Homo sapiens: one gene and its partner. The protein of the gene in region 2 interacts with the protein of the main gene of each other region in a pairwise test. Each region holds a gene or a part of one and is shown on either strand. Other genes may lie near its edges.

Region 1 (7,045 bases), on a different chromosome or scaffold from region 2:
CCCCCAGCTTATCGCCAGCTATAGTAGGGCATATATGGGTATATTTATGCTCCCCTAAACATACTCCTGTTATCCTCTCTGGATCTTTTGTTCCTGAGGTAGAGACCATGCTGTTGGTCTTCAGATCACCTCTGCCACCTGACTGCCAACTCAGGTCTCAGCTCACTGCTAGATACCTCCACCCACAGCCTGCAGTCAGGGTTGGGTGACTGGCATCCCTTGTGTCCCAGTTGAGGCAGTGGGAACAGGAGGGGTGGAGCCGGCTGCTGTTGTGATGATCATGTGCTGCCTTCCTGCGTTGGAGTGTTCCACTTGCCCATTGTTGGAGGCGAGGAGACTGTGCCACTGAGGCACCTGTGCCAGCCCCCACCCGAAGAAGGACGCCATGTGCGTCTTCTAACCCTCCTCCTCTTCCCGCCTGTAGGTCCCGCAGGCTCCCGATGGCGAGATTACGGCGCCCTGGCCATCATCATGGCAGGCATTGCATTTGGCTTTCACCAGCTCTACAAGGTGAGTCACCCCCAGCGGCTGCAGGTGCTGTGCCCCTGCCACCCTGTGGCATTCAGCACCCTTTCACTGGTTCCCCTGCATGGAGGCACTGCCGTGCTCTGCCCTGGAGTGTGTTGGCAGTGAGAGGCTGTGGTAGAGGTCGGGGTTCACAGCTGGATCCAGGCAGACCCTGCCCTGCTGTGGGGCTTGGCAGGCTCTGCCCACCTTTTCTCCAGTGCTCAGCATATACCACCCAGATCTCCACTTGCAGGGGCGTCGTGAGGTCTGTCCCTTGCCAGCCCATGTCAGGCACTTACAGTAGTGCCCGCACGGGGAAGCCGTGCGAGCAGTTTTGAGACACAGAATAACATAATGGCGAAGAGCATGGACGCTGGGCCAGCTGCTTTGCTGAGCCCTGGCTCTGCCCCTCAGGAGCTTGGTGATCACAGGCTCTGGTCTGTAAAATGGGAATAACAGTCCCCACTTCACAAGGTTGTCGTGAAGTCCGGAAGAGTCAGTCTCCCTTGTAGAGGACTCAGAGCCATGCCCGGCACATGGAAGTGCTTTATACACCATTGTTCTGCCACAGCATTTAAGAGCGGCGGTGAGAACCTCAGTGTCATCAGATGTATGGGAGCTGTTCTTTTTGCTCTGTCTGTTGTGCTGCCATCTATAGAAATCTAGGATTTCCCAGGCTTCTCAAGTCAACTTTCAGGATCCCAGGTTCATTGCTTGCAACAGAACTGCAGGCATGACGTGAACATTGACTCCCTTGTGAAGGCCCAACTTGGACGTGAAGCAAATGAGTCTAGAGTCTAGAAAATGCAGGCCAGGGTAGGTGCCCAGTCCAGATCTTGGGACCCTGTAGAGAAGCCTCTTTTCTTTCGAGGCTGCCAGCTCCTCCACCCCTGATTGGTGATTTTTTTTTTTTTTTTTTTGAGATGGAGTCTCGCTCTGTCACCTAGGCCGGAGTGCAGTGGCATGATCTCGGCTCACTGCAAGCTCCGCCTCCTGAGTTCAAGCAATTCTCCTGTCTCAGCTTCCTGAGTAGCTGGGATTATAGGCGTGCTGGTGCATGCCTGGCTAATTTTTGTACTTTTAGTAGAGATGGGGTTTCACTGTTGGCCAGGCCGGTCTCGAACTCCTGACCTCAGGTGATCCGCCCACCTCGGCCTCCCAAAGTGCCAGGATTACAGGCTTGAGCCACCGTGCCCGGCTGGTGATTTTCTTTTTTAAACAACCTGAATGAGCACTCAGACTCGCCATGGTCACTCTTAGCACATGAAACATGGTCAGCCATGGTATTCCAGATTCTTCATTTTTGATGTAATACAAAAGCTAATGACAGTTGTAGCAGAATATAATTTTTTAAGTGTAGCATGTATTCCTGGAGCTGGACATTTCCATGTTAGAAATTGAGAAACAAGGGCTGGGCGCGGTGGCTCACGCCTGTAATCCCAGCACTTTGGGAGGCTGAGGCTGAGGATCCTGACTTGATCACGAGGTCAGTAGATCGAGACCATCCTGGCTAACACGGTGAAACCCCGACTCTACTAAAAATACAAAAAATTAGCCCAGCATGGCGGCGGGCACCTGCAGTCCCAGCTACTGGGGAGGCTGAGGCAGGAGAATGGGGTGAACCTGGGAGGCGGAGCTTGCAGTAAGCCAAGATCATGCCACTGCACTCTAGCCTGGGTGACAGAGCAAGACTCCTTCTCAAAAAAGAAAAAGAAAAAGAAAAAGAAATTGAGAAACAAAACATCCTGGGTTGGCCCAGGTGCCGTGGCTCACACCTCTAATCCCAGTACTTTGGGAGGCCAGGGCAGGCAGATTGCTTGAGCCCAGAAGTTTGATATTAGCCTGGCCAACATGGTGAAACTGTGTCTCTACCAAACAATAAAATAAAATAAAATAAAATAAAATAAAATAAAATAAATAAGCTAGGCATGGTGGTGTGAGCCTGTAGTCCCAGCTATACTCGGGAGGCTGAGGGTGGTGGGAGGATCACTTGGGCTCGGGAGGTGGAGGTTGCAGTGAACTGAGATCACACTACTGCACTCCAGCCTCGGCAACAGAAGGAGACCCTGTCTCAATTTAAAAAACAAAATAAGCCAGGCGCAGTGGCTCATGCCTGTAATCCCAGGACTTTGGGAGGCTGAGGTGGGCGGATCACTTGAGGTCAGGAGTTTGAGACCAGCCTGGCCAACAAGGTGAAACCCTGTCTCTACTGATAATACAAAAATTAGCTGGGTGTCATGGCGTGCACCTGTAATCCCAGCTACTTGGGAGGCTGAGGCAGGAGAATCACTTGAGCCTGGGAGGCATAGGTTGCAGTGAGCCTGCAGTGAGCCGAGATTGTGCCACTGCACTCCAGCGTGGGTGAAAGAGCGAGACTTTGTCTCAAATAAATACATAAATAAACAGAACAGAACAAAAACACCTCTTGGGACCCGGTTCTTCTCCCTCTGAACTGGTGCCCCCTTCAAATCACTGACTGTATACAAGCACCAAGAAGAATGTGACACGAACGCCAGAGTCCTCAGATGAATGCCCTGGCTGTAATGAGCAGTAGGCACTGTCACATGGCCACCCATGGAGGGCCTGTGGCCTGACGGGAGCGGGAGGGCAGCTCGGCAGCCCGCCTTAGCGTGGGCACTCACACGGAGCTGCCACTTGTAGTTTCTACGAAGCTCTGGGCTCTCCGCTCTGTTTTAAAAAGAAAAGAAACATTGCAATATCAGTCACAATGGTAACAAGAGAATTTCTAAAGCATCTGCTCAGTTTCTCGAAATTAAAAAAAAAAAAAAAAAGAAATGGTAAAAAGCCCTCGACTGGCTTTATAAGCACGTGAAGACTTTGGCTAGGGCAGCGTGTCTGCTCCTGCCCTTAGGACTTCTGATCTCAGAAATGGGGTGTTTAGTTGGTTACACACACATATATGAATTCTTTTTTTTTTTTTTTTTTTTTTGAGACACAGTCTAACTCTGTTACCCGGGCTGGAGTGCAGTGGCATGATCTCTGCTCACTGCAGCCTCTGCCTCCCGGGTTCAAGCGATTCTCCAGCCACAGCCTCCCGAGGAGCTGGGATTACAGGCATGCGCCACCACACTCAGCTAATCTTTATATTTTTAGTAGAGACGGAGTTTCACTGTGTTGGCCAGGCTGGTCTCGAACGCCTGACCTCATGATCTGCCCACCTCAGCCTCCCAAAGTGCTGGGATTACAAGCGTGAGCCACCGCGCCCGGCCAAGAATTCTTTACCTTTCTTGCTGAGGACATTTCATCCTGAAGTGTAAGGCTACCTTTGATGAGTTTTGGCTCAGTTGTGGGTAATAGCTCACACTGTGGTTGAAAAGCACTTTGCAAAATAGAAAATGCGTCTATACATGTGCTGCTGAAGAATGATCTTCACTTAGGAGTCACTCTGGAAATGAGTTCCCACAAACCCCTTGTGAGAGAGCTTCTTTTCCTTCCCTGGTACAGAAACCGTAATGGAGAAGTTTCCGTCCTCTTTCCTATCTGGGCCCAGATAGATTAAGAACCAAAGTTATCCCCGGGCAGCTCCTGCCAGGCTTGCACTGCACTGCCTCTGGCAGTGCCCACTGAAGGGGGCAGCGGGTCTCACTCCTCACCTGGGGGGCTTTGTCTCCATGTCCCGAGTGGCTGGACGTCAGTGCACATGTTCCTACACGCAGCTGTCCCTGCAGGCCCCACCACCCACCTCCACCCCTCCACACCCTCACCTCCAAGGCAACCAAGAGCACCAGTTGCCAGCCCTGCCCTGCCTGCCCCCTTCCTGAACGGCTCCTTCGGGCATCCCTGGTTCTAGGCCCCTGTGAGGGGTGGCCCTGCCGCATTCACTTTCTTTTTCCCCAGAGCCAGTTTCTTCTGGTCCTGCGCCTTCCTCTCCCTTCTGCCTTGTGTTTCCTTCTGGGGAACTCGACTTCTTTTGACTCTTACGTGAAGGAAGTTTGTTCTGAGGATTCAGGCTTCATTTAGAAAAAGACTGAGGTGACCTCTTCCAGCAGCCTCAGAGCGCACATGTTATCCCCTGGCGAGAGAACCAAGGGTCCCAGAAATGTGTTGTTGATTTTCCTTTAGTTTCTCCAGCGATGTTTTGTTTATTAATTTACTCGTTTGTTTCTGAATAGGTGATTCACTCACAGGTTCAAAATGTTCACAATTCAGGAGAACATGCCGGGAAGAGCTGCCCCGCCTCCCTCGCCTCCTGGAGGCTCCAGCATTATCTGTTGCTTGTGTGTCCATCCACATTTATATCTTACAACTTTGACAGTAGAGTTTATAACTTTGTGTTACAGAAATAGTGTAGCATCACTAAGAAAAGTAAATAAAGGAACCAAAAAGTTCCCATCACAGCAGATCCAGCTGACTCTCCCTGTCCACGTTCCCTCCTGGTCCTTGTCCTTATTCAGGCAGAATTTTTACGTGGTTGTAATCGCAGTCTCATAACTTTTTCAAATATCTTGTTCATTTATGGTGTTTGCTTAGGGTTTCCAAAACCCAGGGATGACAGGGAGAAAGTTGGGCGGCAGAATTTGAGAGATTGTTGGAGGATAACCCCGGGTCCGTATGCATTCCTCACCCTGTCCCGCTTCTTGCAGAAATACCTGCTCCCCCTCATCCTGGGCGGCCGAGAGGACAGAAAGCAGCTGGAGAGGATGGAGGCCGGTCTCTCTGAGCTGAGTGGCAGCGTGGCCCAGACAGGTAAAGATTAATGACTCCATCAAGTCACCCCTCACAGCCTTCTCCAAGCAGCCCCTTCTCTGCCCCTCCCCTCTCCCTCTGTCTCCACTCTATGTGGTGACTTCATTTATCTGCTCTGAGAATCTGTTCACATTTGCAAATGAAGCCGCCGTCATTTCGGTTTAATTTGAAATTGCTTGTTTACTGTCGGCGCGGCCTCAATTAATTATGTTTTTACGGAAAGGCTCCCAACCTCAGAATATTAATAAGGGGAATAAAATGACAGCCTTTCTAAGGGCTGTAAAGTTCATTTTTAATTTCTGCTTCTATGAGGTTTTCAGGGGGGTTTTCAGTGATTTTCCCCCTTCCCTCTAAGACTCGACTGTGGGGTCAAGAGAGTCTGTAATTACTGTGGCTCCCGGGACCCCAGCCACCTCCCCTGTTATCGACTCAACAGGGCTCGCGTTCATTACCCAGTGCCCCAGCGATGGCCCAGATTAGCTGGGACCTGTCGCGCCAGAGGTGGCTTCTCTTCTTTATAAACTTGTTTACTAGACGGCAGCTCTGAATCTAAAAACCAGAGCAAGGCCAATGAGAGAGCCACCTGTCCCAGGCAGGAGTCTGTGTCCCTCTGGAGCACGTTTGTGAAGCTCACAGAAACCCTCTGACACGTCCATCCTGCTGCCGTTTGCTCCTGCGAGGCTGACATTGGTGGCAACAAGGTCCTGAGGGGTCACGGGACACCAGGGAGTTGAGCAGGCAGCTTGGGTCAGGTGGGGAGGGTGGGAAGGAGCAGTGGGAAACAGGACGTGCGGCTTGAGCCACTCCTGGATGTGAATGTGGCGGGGACCTGAGATGCATCTCTCCCAGCATTGGAGACCCCAGGAGTTTCACAAGGACACTGAGGCCCAGGAGATGAAGGACGCAGGCGCCAGAGAAGCCGGGAGAGCTCAGCAAATCATAGCCAGCTCTAATTAGAGGGGAGAGGTTCTGGACGGATATACTGTTGACCATGGACAACTACACAATGGAAAGATAAAGTAGAAATACTAGAGGTTAGATACAGTGCAGGCAGATCACCCAGAGTGCAGATAAATTAGATGGATTGCGGGGGCTGGGGGTGTCTGCAGATAAATTAGATGGAGCGGGAACACGGGCAGCTCCGAGGTGTGCGGACCGAGCGAGGGGAACGTCTGTGCCTGTGAATTTGCCAGCGCCGTGACTGCTTTCTCCTCGCAGTGACTCAGTTACAGACGACCCTCGCCTCCGTCCAGGAGCTGCTGATTCAGCAGCAGCAGAAGATCCAGGAGCTTGCCCACGAGCTGGCCGCTGCCAAGGTACCTGTCTCTGCTGCACAGGGCCCTCCAGGCCCAGGTCTGTCCCATGTGCCCTTCACTCTTGTCCCTTGGGCCGGGCTTGCCACCTTCGGGAGCTGGACTTTGCCCCAGTCTCACAGTGGTTACACAGCCGTGGCCGATGCTGCCCTTTCTCTCCTTGTAGAGACAGGAGGCTGTTGCTGGGCAGTCAGTGTGACGTTTAACTGTCGAGGCCATCCTTTCTCTCTCTATGTCACCTCCCAACAGGAGGAAGGAAAAGCTACCCTCTGCCTGTGGAGATCTCATGGCAGCCACATCCCCGCAGCTCTGGAGGCTTTCTGTGTAGACATGGGACGGTCTCTACCTATAAGTTAGGTTGCAGGTCACAGCATGGCCAGGAGGGGTTCTGGAACAGACAGGGGAGAAGCGAGTCGCAGTCAGTTCACCAGCACCAGCCCCATCCACACCGCAGTGCAGCGGGCAGGTTCTCTAGACTCAGGTTCCATGGGTTCTGGCAATCCTAGGGAGCCAGAACC
Region 2 (7,045 bases):
TCAATCAGAATTCTAAAAAAAAAAAAAACACCACACACACACACACACACACACACACACACGTACAGCACTTTTAGAGGCCAAGGCAAGAGGACTGCTTGATCCCAGGAGTTTGAGACAAGCCTCCACCACCTAACCCTGGATCCTGAAAGCCATCCAGGGGTGTCCAAGGGACAGAATACAGTCATGGGTTCTTAGTTTCTGTTTCTGGTTGGAACATAGGGAGACCTCGTCTCTACAAAAAATAAAAAATGAGCCGAGCATGATGGCGTGCATCTGTGATCCTGGCTAGTTGGGAGGCTGAGGTGGGAGGATCACTGGGGTCCCAGGGTTCGAGGCTGCAGGGAGCCATGAATGCGTCACTGCACTCCAGCCTGGGTGACACTTAGACTCTGTCTCAAAACAAACAAACAAACAAATATCTGCTTATTCCTCTACTGTAGATTAAAATTATTAAATTTTTTTTTTTTACCTGGCAATTATTCAGCTCTTGAATAACTTCCTTGTTTTCTTTACTGATGTCACATACACAGATGAATTCTGCTTCTCTGTGGCCTTTAAAAAACTTCTCACGGATTCTTTGCACAACAGCAGTTGCTGACCGGCCAGAGGGAACGGAGCAGTTTTCAATATCCCAAAAAACTCCAATGGGGGGTAAGTTTTCTAGCACCTGTCCAGCTACTGCAACTTCTGGTGACCCTTAAGAAATGTTAACATTTTCAATTACTTGTAGTGGAAAATAAATGGCAAGTTACAATAAGATAATAAACTACCTATCATTCTCAGTGGTAGAAAAACTAAATTATTAATGAATGCCAAGTTTTAAGGCTACCAACCTCACTGGTTGACCTAATAAGCAATCAAGCTGTCAAAAAGTATCACTCTAAGAGATTATTTCTGTTTTTCAGGAGAAGACAAATCTAAAAGTCAAGTAACTTTAAGCCCACAATAAATCCACCTCCAAGCATGAGCCACTCTGACATTAAGCAGTGATGCTTCTCTGAACACAAGCACACTAACTGACCGGATACTGCAGCTCCAGGACCCGACTTTCAAGCTTAGCCCACACTTATCTACCTACTTGGTAGTAACCAACACTGAGGAGCTGACAAAGGGTGAAGCTGTTACTGTCGTTGATTTTGAGTTAACGCTGCATTAACATCTGATTTAATATTTTAAAAATGTTTTCAAAACGTCGCATTAACTACTTTTTAGGGAAATTATTTTAACTGAGAACTCTTTGGTTTTCAAATACTGTTTTTAATCAGCCATTAGTAAATTGTTCTAAGCACTTCTAGGGAGTATACCATCAACAAGTGTGATTTCCAACCTAAGGTGACACCAAGTCTTTTCCAGCACTTTTATTTCTCCTGATATACTACCAATTTTTCTATACACAGCTTCTGTGTATAGCCTCGGCCCAACATAAAGGGCAAATGACTTCCTGGTCCATAATAATAAAAAGATTTCTACCAAGATATGGAATTGGAGACTCACATACACAGTAGCTTTAGAACCATAAGGAATCCTTCAAAGGTGATTAAATGCAATGTTAGTATGAGATATTGAAAGCTATTTAAATATGCACATTTTATGCCATACTGTCATTTACCAAATTTTGAAGCAGCTTTGCCTAGACTGGTCGCCAATAACAACGTGGTCTCCTTCCCTGTTCCTTTGGTTCCACAGCCATTACACAGAGGGACAGCAAGAGGTGCAGGTTGAGTATTTGGAGGTGGTATATTTGGCCAGACTTTAGCCGCATCGATTATGCTATTTCTTGCTGGCTGTTTTAAATTTTTTTTAAAAAGGAGGAGGTGTCAGATACATCATTTCAGAAGCTGGAGTTATATACAACAACTGAAAATACACTCTAAGTGTTTTACCTTTCCACTTGCTAGCCTCTAATAAAAAGGACTTTCAAATAATCTTTCCAAGAACCATTAGCTATCAGTTCATAAATTCATTTCCAGAAGTGACTTGACATGATCAAGAAAGATATTCACGTGGTCAGATCTTTACATTCTGGGGCATGAGTCTGCTGCAACGAAGACCTCACACATATTTTACATAAAGGGTAGCAAAGTCTCACTTGAACACCAATGTGACTGAGGCCAAGCTTCAGGTTTCCCACATTATTGCAAAAAGACAACATGCAGTTATCTACCTTACATGAATGGGCCCATGTGTAAGCTGAATGTAAGTTATAAAAAATCCATCGTGCTTTAGCCTTTAAACATAGAACACGAAGGCTTTGCCAACCTCTTGTTTGCAACAAGAGGCTCTAAAAGTATAAACTACAAAAATAATGACTCTCTACTTTTTTGAATGATCTCCCATCTTACCCTTTGTTTCTTTCAGAACCAGCAAAAATTATGCTGATGGGGAGATTCCCCTATACCATGGGAGAATCTTCAACCCCATGTATAATACTTTTCAAGATAAATCCACTTCAAAAGTCATTCCTCAATCCTCAGCTGCACCCAACTTAAGAAATAAAAAGATACGAACCTTGTTTAGACAGTCTTCGCAGTAAAGTGAGCCCTTTAAACAAACCGGAGGTACCACATTAAGGTGCAAAGAGTTGGTGCACAAGTGAGGCGTTAGCTCCGACTGTGAAATGTGCTCTTCCAAATGCCCTGGAGCCCCGCTTGTGAAATCAGAACAGGGGAAATAGCCAGCGGAGGTGCAGCCCTGCAGACTCGGAAACTGATGCAGCTTGTGCACATTACCATGACATGACTGGAAGTGGAGTTTTCCACAACAGGGCAGGTGTTTGCAGGAAGACAGGTTACTCTCTAGACACATGCTGGGAAAGTCACTTGCAATGCCTGCCAAATTGTTCCTAGCTGAGGCATTCTGGAGTGAAGATGCAGACTGGAAAGCAAACCCTGACCCTACCTGACACGTGATTGTCCTGGTGCTTTGCGAGTCTAACAGTGCGCCCGGGTGAATCAAGCTACTGGTACCTCCGCTACCGCCACCACCACCACCAAAACGCATTGGCGAAGTGGAGGGTTCATTAGGGCAATGAGCACAGCAGCTTACTTTGGGGACAGAAGAAAGCTGTATTTTAGGCTGCTGAAGAGAACGAATATCAGGAAGTGGGACTGCTGGAAAAAGCTTAGAGCCAGCATGAAGGGGTGATGGTACATCCTTTAGTTCCACAGCAACTTTCTTGTTCTCCATGTACTCTTTCTGAGAAAAGAAAATCAGAACATAAATTAATTTTATGAGGTCCGTGGTTTTTTGGTTACTCATATCTTACTGCATGCACAAACAGAAATAGTGTTCAATTCTGTTACATCACTAAATCATAACTGAACAAAATGGAATCACAGCTAGTTAAAACCAGGAACATTCTTCAGAGAGGTCTGCAGGACATGAACACTGGAACACACAACTAAAATTAAGACTACATTCTTCCTGAATTGAAACAGACTGGGGTGGGAGGGCCTGTTTACATCTTTAGCAGCCACCATGCCTCAGTAACTTCCTTTTGGTAATTTCCCCTTGCCTCACAGAATCTTCTGAAGACAAAATAGGTGGTATGAAAACAACCCCTCACAAACAGCATTCAATAAAGATGGCTAACACACACAGTGGTTTGAGGACAATACTTAATAGTTCTGTGGTCAGGCCATAAGGGGTTTTAGTAAGATCCCCCAAAGGAAAAGAGTAAAGTTTCAAACACAGATGAGATCAGCCATCTACCCAGATGGCCCATCCGTGTTGCTGATGACATTTCATAAACCCTAAGATATCATGACCTAAAGCCATAATGACAATTATATTGCAGCCAGTGAAAAGATTTAGAGAATTAGAAAACTATCCAAGAAAAAGATCCAAGACAAATAGTTTGCCACATGACTCCAACACAGACACAGGAAGCCAGTATATTACAAAGGTTCTGAGCAGAGCATCAGTGGCAGAGACCTGGGTTAGAATCTGATACTCAATAGTTGTATGACCTTGGGTAAGTTACTTAACCTACACTTTGGTTTCCTCATCCATAAACTGGGAATACAATATACCTCCTAGAGTTGCTAGGAGGATAAAATAAGATAGAGCACATAGACCACCTGGCACAGTACCTAGCCACTGAAAGGGGACTGAATTCATCAGCCTTCACAGGCTGACTGCAAGAGACATTAAGATGAAGAGGGGGCCCTGCTACAGTGACTGAGACGTGCTCACCGTTCACAGCATATGAGGGTCCATCTGACGCCTAAAATTCCACTCCCTTTGCTGTGATTCTACACTCACCTGGGAGCATAGGCTCATCTGGAAGAAATGTGAATTTTCAGCTAAACTTTCCCTAAAAGGGAGATAACAGCAACGGGCTGACCAGCCAATGAACTGCCCTCTTGGTAATTATAGTTCAGACTGAAATTAACACACTGGTATTCTGATTTATACAGATCAGGCTCATACAGGCAGGCTTACTATGAGTTGATCCCCTGAACCTACTCCATTCTGCATGCCACTGACAAAATTGAGTTTCAAGATCTGTAAAGTTGACCGTGTAATTCTGAATTGTGTGACTCCATGAGGACCAGATCTACCACCCCATCCCAGGAAGCCTTGCTTTTGATGCCAACCCTCACTGTCAACTGTCTCTAAAATAAAACACTCCTAAAATGACCCAAATTACTTGATGTCTTGCAACAAAGACAACTATATAGTGAAAACCTAGAGAAAATAGAGAATTAAACTGGTTTTTAAAAAGTTATTAATACCCGGCCAGGCGCGGTGGCTCACGCCTGTAATCCTAGCACTTGGGAGGCCGAGGCGGGTGGATCACCTAAGGTCAGAAGTTCAAGACCAGCCTGGCCAACACGGTGAAACCCCATCTCTACTAAAATACAAAAATTAGCCAGGCATAATGGCGAGTGCCTGTAAACCCAGCTACTAGGGAGGCTGAGACGGGAGAATCCCTTGAACTAGGGACAGTGGTTGCAGTGAACCCGGATCGTGCCACTGCACTCCAGCCTAGGGGGCTGAGCCGAGACTCTGTCTCAAAAAATAAAATCAAATAAAAGTTGTTAATACCCTTATATAAAATTATATTACAGTCTCACTTGAATCCCACATACAATAGAAAATAAGAAATAGAAAGGTGGTAACATGAGTGCATGAAGTCAGGAAATGTCAAAATTGGCTGGACGCGGTGGCTCACGCCTGTAATCCCAGCACTTTGGGAGGCTGAGGCGGGAGGATCACTTGAGGTCAGGAGGTCAAGACCAGCCTGGCCAACATGGCGAAACCTCGTCTCCACTAAAAATACAAAAATTAGCCAGGCATGGCAGCACAGGCCTGTAATCCCAGCTACTGAGGAGGCTGAGGCAGGAGAACTGCTTAAACCTGGGAGGCAGAGGTTGCAATGAGCCGAGATCGCACCACTGCACTCCAGCCTGGGCCACAGAGCAAGACTGCACCTCAAAAAAAAAAAAGAAAATGTCAAAATCACAATGAGTAAGCAAGAAGTTAGAGACATAAATGTATACTGAGAAGTAAATATTCAAGAGAAATCTCGAAATAAAAAACAGGCAGTGGATAAGCTCTTCCCAACCCTTCCTAGATTATAGACTCAAAACTCAAGAGGGCTACAGTAAAATACAACATATTTTGTATTTTCCTCTGATTTTACTCCACAATGTGGATTTTTAATCTTTGTTACCTGTGACTTTAATGAGGAAGAAATCTTTCCCAAATTTTAACATTAAATATTCAAGGCATCTACTGTTACTCAAAGTGAAATAGAAGAGTTAAAAAATTGTGCTGTGCTCTCACATTATAATGTGGTATAAGAGGCAATACAGGCAAGATCTACAGAAAAATGTGGCACAGACTCTAGGATGAGAGACTGTATCCCAGACCAAATGGACCTCTCTCATCTATTTGGATGAGGAATCTGCTACATCCTTAGTCTTGCATATAGTTACCGTTTGGGGACTATGTGGCAGCGTCTGCTCAGGACGAGAAAAGCAATTAGAGAATTTCCAAAGCCATGGCTTAGCATCATTATCTTGTTGAAGCCATCCACGTGTTCTACTGCAGGAGTTCTCAGTTCCGTTTCCTTCCATCATACAGCCATGCAAAGTGATTCAACATCCTTTCATCTTTCTTTTCTTTCATTCTTCCACCCTGTTAAGAATGAGTAAGATTTCAGTGTTATTTCCTTGCATAAGTACAAATTTTACAACATACTAAAATGTGAAACCACAGCTATATTTACAGTCCTATGGCTCTCAACAATTCAAATCTTTGTTTCAAGAGGAAGTCTCGCTCTGTCGCCCAGGCTGGCATGCAGTGGTACGATCTCAGCTCACTGCAACCTCCGTCTCCCGGGTTCAAGCGATTTTTCTGCCTCAGCCTCCAGAGTAGCTGGGACTACAGGAGCCTGTCACTATGCCTGGCTAATTTTTATATTTTTAGTAGAGATGGGGTTTCACCAAGTTGGCCAGGCTGGTCTTGAACTCCTGACCTCAAGTGATCCACCCTCCTCGGCCTCCCAAAGTGCTGGGATTACAGGCATTAGCCACTGCGCCCGGCCAACAATTCAAATCTTAACAAACAAAATAATAATAATAAAATAAAGAAAGAAAAAAACACAAAATATCAGAGCATATTACGGGTTAATAAAATTTGGTAAACTTGGTTGACTGTTTATGCTTAAAATCTAACTGCAACAACCTGATTTCTTAAAAAATCTATAATCTGCCATTCTTCATGTTTCATAGCTCTTCAAATAAAAAATGAACTCTCCATGAGTCTTGTTTCCTTTCCACATGTAACCATGTTTGAGAGAGGTAGCCATATCTTGGAAACTTGCATATTCCAGAGTGAGACTTCACCTCCTCACTTGGCTGGAATCAATTTTTTCTACAGTTTTTCTGAATTCTTTTCGGCTCTCTCTCCCTAAAGATGCTGCTCAGGAAAGTCAAAAGTTAACAGAAGAGAGCATCTAATCTGAGTAAAAGAGCCACCACCACATCCTCATTGACAACTATATGTAAGATTTTAAAATTGACTTAAGAGCAAC

Evidence for each region. Proteins that work in one complex are often made in the same cells at the same time.
Region 1: the proteins of MARF1 (region 2) and PEX14 interact in binary tests that used the Homo sapiens proteins (3 or more experiments, as listed by UniProt).

The regions. Positions count from the first base shown.
Region 1 is NC_000001.11:10,617,908-10,624,952, forward strand, and holds part of PEX14 (peroxisomal membrane protein PEX14), read left to right. Parts: intron 1-424; coding exon 425-510; intron 511-5,111; coding exon 5,112-5,214; intron 5,215-6,432; coding exon 6,433-6,530; intron 6,531-7,045. UniProt on the Homo sapiens protein: Component of the PEX13-PEX14 docking complex, a translocon channel that specifically mediates the import of peroxisomal cargo proteins bound to PEX5 receptor.
Region 2 is NC_000016.10:15,633,145-15,640,189, forward strand, and holds part of MARF1 (meiosis regulator and mRNA stability factor 1), read right to left. Parts: intron 6,148-7,045; 5' UTR 6,090-6,147; coding exon 5,946-6,089; intron 3,199-5,945; coding exon 2,512-3,198; exon of another isoform or gene 2,362-2,511; intron 1,788-2,361; coding exon 1,613-1,787; intron 1,116-1,612; exon of another isoform or gene 866-1,115; intron 700-865; coding exon 473-699; intron 1-472.